Homo sapiens: one gene and its partner. The protein of the gene in region 2 interacts with the protein of the main gene of each other region in a biochemical or structural test. Each region holds a gene or a part of one and is shown on either strand. Other genes may lie near its edges. The genes, in order: CD8A and CEACAM5.

Region 1 (4,547 bases), on a different chromosome or scaffold from region 2:
AAAAACTAGACCAGCCAAGTAGGAAAAAAAATTGTTTTCTTAAGAAAACAACAAAACCCAGATGGAATAATCAGAATAAAGAGGAGGTCAGGTCCTACGAGGAGCTAGGATAAATTGGGGGAATCCCTCAGGTTTTTTTTTTTTTTTTTTGGAAGTGCCAGGTCAAATAAGATGGAGATTTACTGGAGTCACACTGCTGTTGGCACCCGCCTAACCCGGGCCTCCTTTTTCTCAAAGACACAGGCCAGATGCCAGCCTTGGCCTCTCTTTGCTCAGGAACTGGCTGACTCCCTGCCCCAGGATTTCACGGCCATGACCTCTCTCTGGGAAAAGTTCCCACTATTTGCTGCTGGGGAAACCAGGACCCCACCCCAGGGCTGGCCAAGGTGAGCAGGCTGAGTTCAAAAGAGACTCACCGGGGACATTTGCAAACACGTCTTCGGTTCCCTGGATAAGGAAAAAGAAGGGAAAAAGTGAGTGCCCCTATCCATCAATAGTCCCCAAAGACAGTGTATTTTTTGTTGTTGCTGTTGTTGTTGCTGCTGTTTTTTGGTTTTACAAAAAATCATTTCAGAACGATCATGGGCTGAAATTGGATGAGGCAAATAGGGAATTGCCTCTACGAATTCTCCTTCCTTTCCCCTATTTCTTTGAGGATTATAACTCTTGAGAGCCGGGTAAGGGCTTCTTATCCATCCTTCGTCTCAAGCATCAATTAAAAAAAATTGCAACTACAGACGCGGGCGAAAGCGGGGAGCCTGCAGACCTGATCCGGCACCTCTCTTGCATGGGACCCAAAGCAGGGTGGGCGGTTCGCCGAAGAGGGCCAAGGACGAACCTCAAACTGATGGTGGTTTTGACTAACCCTCCTGGGCACTTGACTCGGCCACAGCGGCCCCCTCCCGGCGGGCGTTTGTCATGTGTCCAGACATGTGCGCGCGCGCTGCGGGCTTCGTCGACGGAACACACCCGCTGCAGCGGCTCTGGGAACGCGGCTTTGTCTCCCAAAACCTCTCCGAGAGCGCAAGGAGCGGGAAGGGCTTTCTCGCATTCTATCTCCCAGAAAGAAGTGCCTGTACCTGCGGGGCAGCTCGGGAGTCCCAGAAAACTCAACCCCAAGCTCCCCCCTCGCAAGGTCCGCCTGGAGCTAGCAGAGCCAAGGGCAGGAGCGGGGCCGACTCCTTCCCGCCGCGATTCCTCGGGACTTACTGTGGTTGCAGTAAAGGGTGATAACCAGTGACAGGAGAAGGACCCCACAAGTCCCGGCCAAGGGCGCCCAGATGTAGATATCACAGGCGAAGTCCAGCCCCCTCGTGTGCACTGACGACACCAAAGACGCCGACATTTAGGAGAGGGCCCGGGACCTCCCAACCGCCCCACCGTCCCGGGAACGTCTCTCCGCCTCAGATCTCGGTTTCCCACCACTTGGACAGCCCTTGACTCTACCTACAGTATCAGGGCTGTCCCTGGCATGGGCTCTCCCCGCGGTGCGTGCCGCCCCCGCCCCGGGCCCCCGCACGCCTCACCTGCGCCCCCCGCCGCTGGCCGGCACGCCTCTGGGCGCAGGGACAGGGGCTGCGACGCGATGGTGGGCGCCGGTGTTGGTGGTCGCGGCGCTGGCGTCGTGGTGGGCTTCGCTGCAAGAGCAACAGAGCGTGGTTGGGGGCCAGGCTGGGGTTATGGAGGCGCCCCAGCCCCGGCCTCGCGCACCTTTCCCCACGGGGACGCCTCCCCCCGGTTTTCCTGGGAGAAGGGATAGCAGAGGAGACAGGATGGGGACCCCGGGATGCGCGCGGACCCCTGTGCTCGGGCCTCGGCTCAGCCCAGCGCACCCGGCGCCCAGAGCCGGAGCGCAGGAGCCAGCTCCCCTGCACCTGGCCTCTCTCCCGGGCTGAACCAGCAACCCTGGAGCGCGGGTTGATTGCTGTCCGCATTTTACCCACGAGCAAACGGAGGCGCAGATAATTTAAGTCATTTGCCCAGAATCACACAAGAATCCGAACTCGAGTCCAGATCGGCCGGACGTAAAAAGCCATCCCCAGTCCCTACTCAGCCTCGCGTTAGCCTCAGTTTGCTGTGTCTGTGAAATGGGAACAGTATCTAAGTCGCTTCCAGGTGCGCTAAGAGGCTTGAAAGCAGGGCCCAGGTGTGGAAAACAGGTTGAGGTGAACCCCAAGCCCCACGCGGAGAGGTGCCGCAACCCGGCGCGCGGACCTGGCAGGAAGACCGGCACGAAGTGGCTGAAGTACATGATGGAGTTGCTCAGGGCCGAGCAGAAATAGTAGCCCTCGTTCTCTCGGCGGAAGTCGCTCAGGGTGAGGACGAAGGTGTCCCCCAACCTCTTGCCCGAGAACCGCTGGGTGTCCAGCCCCTCGGCCGCCTTGGGCTTGTTTTGGGAGAGGTATAGGAGGAAGGTGGGACTGGCGGCGGCGCCGCGCGGCTGGAAGAGCCACGAGCAGCCCGACGTCGGGTTGGACAGCAGCACCTGGCACTTCAGCTCCACTGTCTCGCCCAGGTTCCAGGTCCGATCCAGCGGCGACACCCGGAACTGGCTCGGCCTGGCGGCGTCTGCAGGCGGCAAGCAGCGAGGCTGAGCCCGCAGTCCCGCGCCCCCCGCCCCCCGCCCGCCCCATCCCCTGCCTTCCCGGGCGTCTCAAACTCACGGAGCAGCAAGGCCAGCGGCAGGAGCAAGGCGGTCACTGGTAAGGCCATGACGCGCTCCCCAGGACGCTGCTTGGCTCGAAGCTCGGGCGCGAGGGGAGGCGCGCGGGAGCCGGTGGGGCGCCGAGGGGGGAAAGTTGCGCCCTTCGGCCGGCCCGGAGCCTGATTTCGCATTTGGAGGATGTGATGTCACCCGAAGCCCCCGCCGAGGAGAGTCACCCTCCTTTTCGCGGTTGTCGCCTTCCAGCCCGGCGAGGAGGCTGGGGCCCGTGAATAGGGCCGTCGAGGCAGCCTGGCCAGGCAACTGGGGGCAGCTGAAAACTGCGGGTTTGGGGATGAGGAAAAGGGCTTGGAAATAGTCCTTGGAAATGGTTGTCTTGTGAGAGTGACAGAGTGGGTGAAGGGAGACCAAAGATTTCAAGAAGTGAGGGCGAGAGTAGGCAGCAAAGGAGGGGAGTGTCCCTTCCTTTGCCTTCACTAAAGGCGTCTCTTGTACTGTCACCTTGGGACTTTTTATTGGCAAAATGGGCACTGAGGGCTGAAAAGGAAGAGGAACTAGCGACCTGCCCGCTTCTGAGGAACTCGCTAGAGCAGCCCCAGTTTTCACCGAGGAAGGACCCTCTCCCTTCCCCCAGGAGATTTCCATGAGAGCGGCAGCAGCCGAAGCTTTGGGTGTCGGTGTCAGTGCGCTGCTGACCTCATTCTTCCGGCCTTTCATCCAGCGGCTAAACTCACCACACAGCCTCATCTCTTCTTGGAGCCATTGCAACAGCCTTCAATTCACACCAGTCTCTCTCCTGATCAGTCCTCCAGCCACGTTGTTATAAAAATTATTATTCTCACAAAGGGGATCTGACAGCGTCACTGCTGCAGCCTCCCATGGCCTGCATTGCTGGATGGAAATTCAACCCCCAGCTTGGTTGACCAGCCCTTGGGTGCTGGCTCCTCCCAGCCTCCGCACAGCCCCCTGCCCTGCCTTTCCCATACACCTGCAGCTGCAGCTTCACAGGCTTGAAGTCATTCAACCCCTGCGCTCTGTGCTTTCACGCCCTTGCACTTGCGGTCCCTCGGCCTGGAATGCTGGTCTGTTTAAGCCCTGGAGGCAGCTCCTGTGCTGTCTCATTTGGACCTCATTTCTTTCACCCCCAGCTCTGGGTGCTCTGCAGGGAGGTGTGGGTGATGTGGGTGAATGCTTGGGTAGAGGCGGTTTTCTCTTTTCTGTCCCTAACACATGTGTGTCCCCTTCCTTTTTGTTTCTTTAAAAAATAAAATAAAATAAAAAAGACTGGAGTCTCGCTGTTTTGCTCAGGCTGGCCTTGGGACTCCTGAGCTCCAGTGATCCTCCCACCCCAGCCCCCTGAGTAGCTGGGACTACAGGCTCATCTTTCCTTTTTGACTGTTGCTGTCCTGAAACCTTCCAGCTCCAGTGGCATGCCCTCTTCCCATTTCTTCAGGGTTTCTGAGTCTTTCCACTTTGAATCCCATAGTGGCTGCACCTCACATTGCTACTGCTTGATCCTAGAGACAAGACACCTGGCATTCTGTGTTCCATGTGTCTGCCCCACCCATTAGTTCTGCTGGGCGAGGACCATGCCGAGACTTCATGATGTGTCCTCCATCCCCAGAAACACAGCATGGGCTGAGCTGTGCTTGTTGAACTGCATTCTCCTTGTCCTTGTGAAGTACAAACTTAAGTGTTGGATGGGTTCTTTGTCGTTGTTGCTATTTTTTTTTTTGAGATGGGGTCTGGCTGTGTTGCCCAGGCTGGAGTGCAGTGTGGCACCACCTCGGCTCACTGCAGCCTCTACCTCCCAGGCTCAAGTGATCCTTCCACCTCAGCCTCCCAAGTAGCTGGGACCACAGGAGCACACCACCATGCCCAGCTA
Region 2 (2,966 bases):
GCTACACATTAGTAGCATCTGGGGAGGCTTAAAAATTACGAATGCCTGGGTCCCACTCCAGACCAGTAAATCGGAATTTATCGGTGGGACTTAAGTATCCATTTTATAAAATGTTTCTGAGTGATTCCAATGTGTAGCTATATTTTCCGTCAGATTTCTCTAATTTCTTGTGATGTTCACTCCTTTCTATTTTGGCATTATGATTATTTTTCAGGTTTTGTCTCCTGTTATAGAATTAAGGACCTTGCCTTCTTCATTTCTGTATCTGTTATGAACATATGAATTGGTTATCAGGAAAAGGTTCTCAGTCACAGGCACAGTTGTGTCCTGAGCTTAAGACTCACAGGTTAATGCTACAGTCTTTGTTCTTCATGAGGTCAGAAGTTGCTTGTGATTAAGGGTGTGGGTAACTCCACAGTGCAGACAGTGGAAGGAGGTCACCCTGTTTGACATGTTTTTAGGTGTAACACCGGAACTAAGAATTCTGTGTACATGTGGGGTGGAGAGGCAGGGATGTGTAGGGAAACAGATCTATTAGGATGATGGAATTATATAAGGGAGTGGTGGTAAAGGAAGTAAAAAAGATTAGTAAAGAGAAGAAATGTGAACTTATCTAATACACCACAGTAGGCCCCTGTGTCTTCTTGAGTAGGCGAGTGAACTAGATTTTAGGAAGGTAATGAGGCAGTCATATGCAAGAAAGATTTCAAAGACTGGCAACAAGGGGTCAAGCAGGACTTTGAGCAGTTGTTGAGGTTTATGGGAATGGAGAGAATGACACAAGTGTGAGATGTTAAAAAAGGACCAAGAGGCTTTGACAATGTATTGAATCTGGGAAACAAATGAGCAGAGGGTGGGGATAATTATATCTAAGAGACAGTGGCGTACAGGGAGCATGAAGACCAGGGAAGAAGAGACCTGCAGGAATTAGTGCTGAGAAGCAGGAGCTTGGGGGTAGGAGGAAGAGATCCAGTCCCAGATACAGGTGAAGAAATCCCTTCCCTCTCCCAAGCATGGCAGTCAGCACTGCAGGAAACAGAACAAGAGGAAAGGCCATTATACCTACCAGTCTTCCTGAAATGAAGAAACTACACCAGGGCTGCTATATCAGAGCAACCCCAACCAGCACTCCAATCATGATGCCGACAGTGGCCCCAGCTGAGAGACCAGGAGAAGTTCCAGATGCTGAATCGTCCGTCATGGAAAGAAAAGAGAAGGAATGAATGTGATGTTATTTTACAGTGGGGTGCCCCAGGTTCCAGCTCTCAGCATGAAGCAGTCTCTACTTGTTGCTTCAAGGAATGCATTAGTTTTGTGGGAAAGTTGCAATTTTTTCTCTCTCACTGTGTTGCTAGTTGGTGATCAGTCTTCTGTCAATTCCACCCTGGCCTGTCTGCACTCAGCTATTTCTGAAGGCTTTGAAATTTGAGAAAGTCTGATTGCTATTTTTGCGTGTCATTAGAACTTTCTATCTTTTCATGGTTGCATCTTTTTCTCAGTGTCTCAGTTGTGGTAGGCATAAATAAGTCTGTTGGGTCTCTGTGGCAGGGACTTGATTGGCAGAAGGCCCAGGCTAGTGCATTCTGTATTTACTAAGTCCGTTGCACAGAGAACTCGCTTCTCATGGGCTCCCACCAGGGGAATGAAAAGCCCAGTTCTGGGGGACTCTGCTTCTCTCTCATGGGTGAGGGGCTTGAGGACGCCCCACCAGCCTTGTGGAAACTCTGAGAACTGCATCACTATCTAAAACTCTCTCCTCTTTCTCCTTCTCAGGAATCAGATCTGCATCGTGGTCTGAGGGCTCTCTCAGGCTCCTCCCACTTCTACTCCACTTTTCCTCATGGTGGTTCCCCCCGGTAAATTATCTTGCACCTCTAATTCCATCTTGGCTGAATCTCAGTGGATGAAAACTAACATACCAGGCTTGATTCTTTGCACTTAACTTTTTTTTCTCTCCCCCATTTTTAGCCAGTAACCATGTCCTAGTGGGTTTTCATTTGGGGCTTGGCTCTCACTAGTCAACTCAGGCTGATGATTAATGCTATGTTAGCTACTGTAAATGCTTTTCTGGCATCTCATTTGATCCATACAATAACCCTGTTGGGTAGGCATGATTTCCATCTTACAGATGAAATGACAGAGACTTGGAGTGGTGAAAAAACTTATCCAAAGTCATATAATTAGTGAGAAGTGGATCTAGGATTTGGCTCTAGAACTGCCTAACTTCAAGCTAATAATAACAGTAGTGATAATAGCAGCTAATATTTATGAAGTTTCCCTCTGTGTGTAGCATTTTGCTGAAAGCTTAATCGAATATTACATTAAATCTTTAAAACAATACTGTTAAACAGTCATTCTTATTGCAATTTTCATTTTTCCTCCATTTCCTGGTGATGAGAATTATTACAATTTTCAGTTGAAGAATTGAAGGCTCAGAGAAGTTAAGAATCTTGTGTGAGAAATTTAATGGTAAATACATTAAATATAAAGAGAGATCTCAAATCAACAACCTAACTTTACAACTTCAGGATACAGAAAAAGAACCACCTCAAACCACAGATAGTACATGAAGGAAATAATAAGGATTAGAGTTTAAATAAATAAAATGGAAAATTGAAAAACAATAGAAGGAATCAATGAAACCAAAAGTTGGTTCTTCAAAAAAGATCAACAAAATTGACAATCATTTATTAGATTGACTAAGAAAAAAGAGAGAAGATTCAAATTACTAAAATCAGAAATGAAAATGGAGGTATAGCGGCTCACACATTTAATCCCAGCACATTGGGAGACTCAAGCAAGAGGATTACTTGAGGTCAGGAGGTCAAGACCAGCCTGGGCAACATAGGCAGACACAGTGTCTACAAAATTTCTTTAAAAAACTATCCAGGCTTGGTGTCACATGTCTGTAGTCCCAGCTTCTCAAGAGGCTGGGGCAGAAGATCACTTGAGCCTTGGAGGTTGAG

Evidence for each region.
Region 1: the proteins of CEACAM5 (region 2) and CD8A form a complex in vitro, tested with the Homo sapiens proteins (one large-scale study listed by IntAct).

The regions. Positions count from the first base shown.
Region 1 is NC_000002.12:86,788,114-86,792,660, forward strand, and holds the start of CD8A (T-cell surface glycoprotein CD8 alpha chain isoform 1 precursor), read right to left. Parts: upstream 2,801-4,547; 5' UTR 2,713-2,800; coding exon 2,664-2,712; intron 2,569-2,663; coding exon 2,215-2,568; intron 1,638-2,214; coding exon 1,527-1,637; intron 1,321-1,526; coding exon 1,210-1,320; intron 448-1,209; coding exon 417-447; intron 1-416. UniProt on the Homo sapiens protein: Integral membrane glycoprotein that plays an essential role in the immune response and serves multiple functions in responses against both external and internal offenses. In T-cells, functions primarily as a coreceptor for MHC class I molecule:peptide complex.
Region 2 is NC_000019.10:41,725,453-41,728,418, reverse strand, and holds part of CEACAM5 (cell adhesion molecule CEACAM5 isoform 1 preproprotein), read right to left. Parts: intron 1,186-2,966; coding exon 1,103-1,185; 3' UTR 1,067-1,102; intron 1-1,066. UniProt on the Homo sapiens protein: Cell surface glycoprotein that plays a role in cell adhesion, intracellular signaling and tumor progression. Mediates homophilic and heterophilic cell adhesion with other carcinoembryonic antigen-related cell adhesion molecules, such as CEACAM6.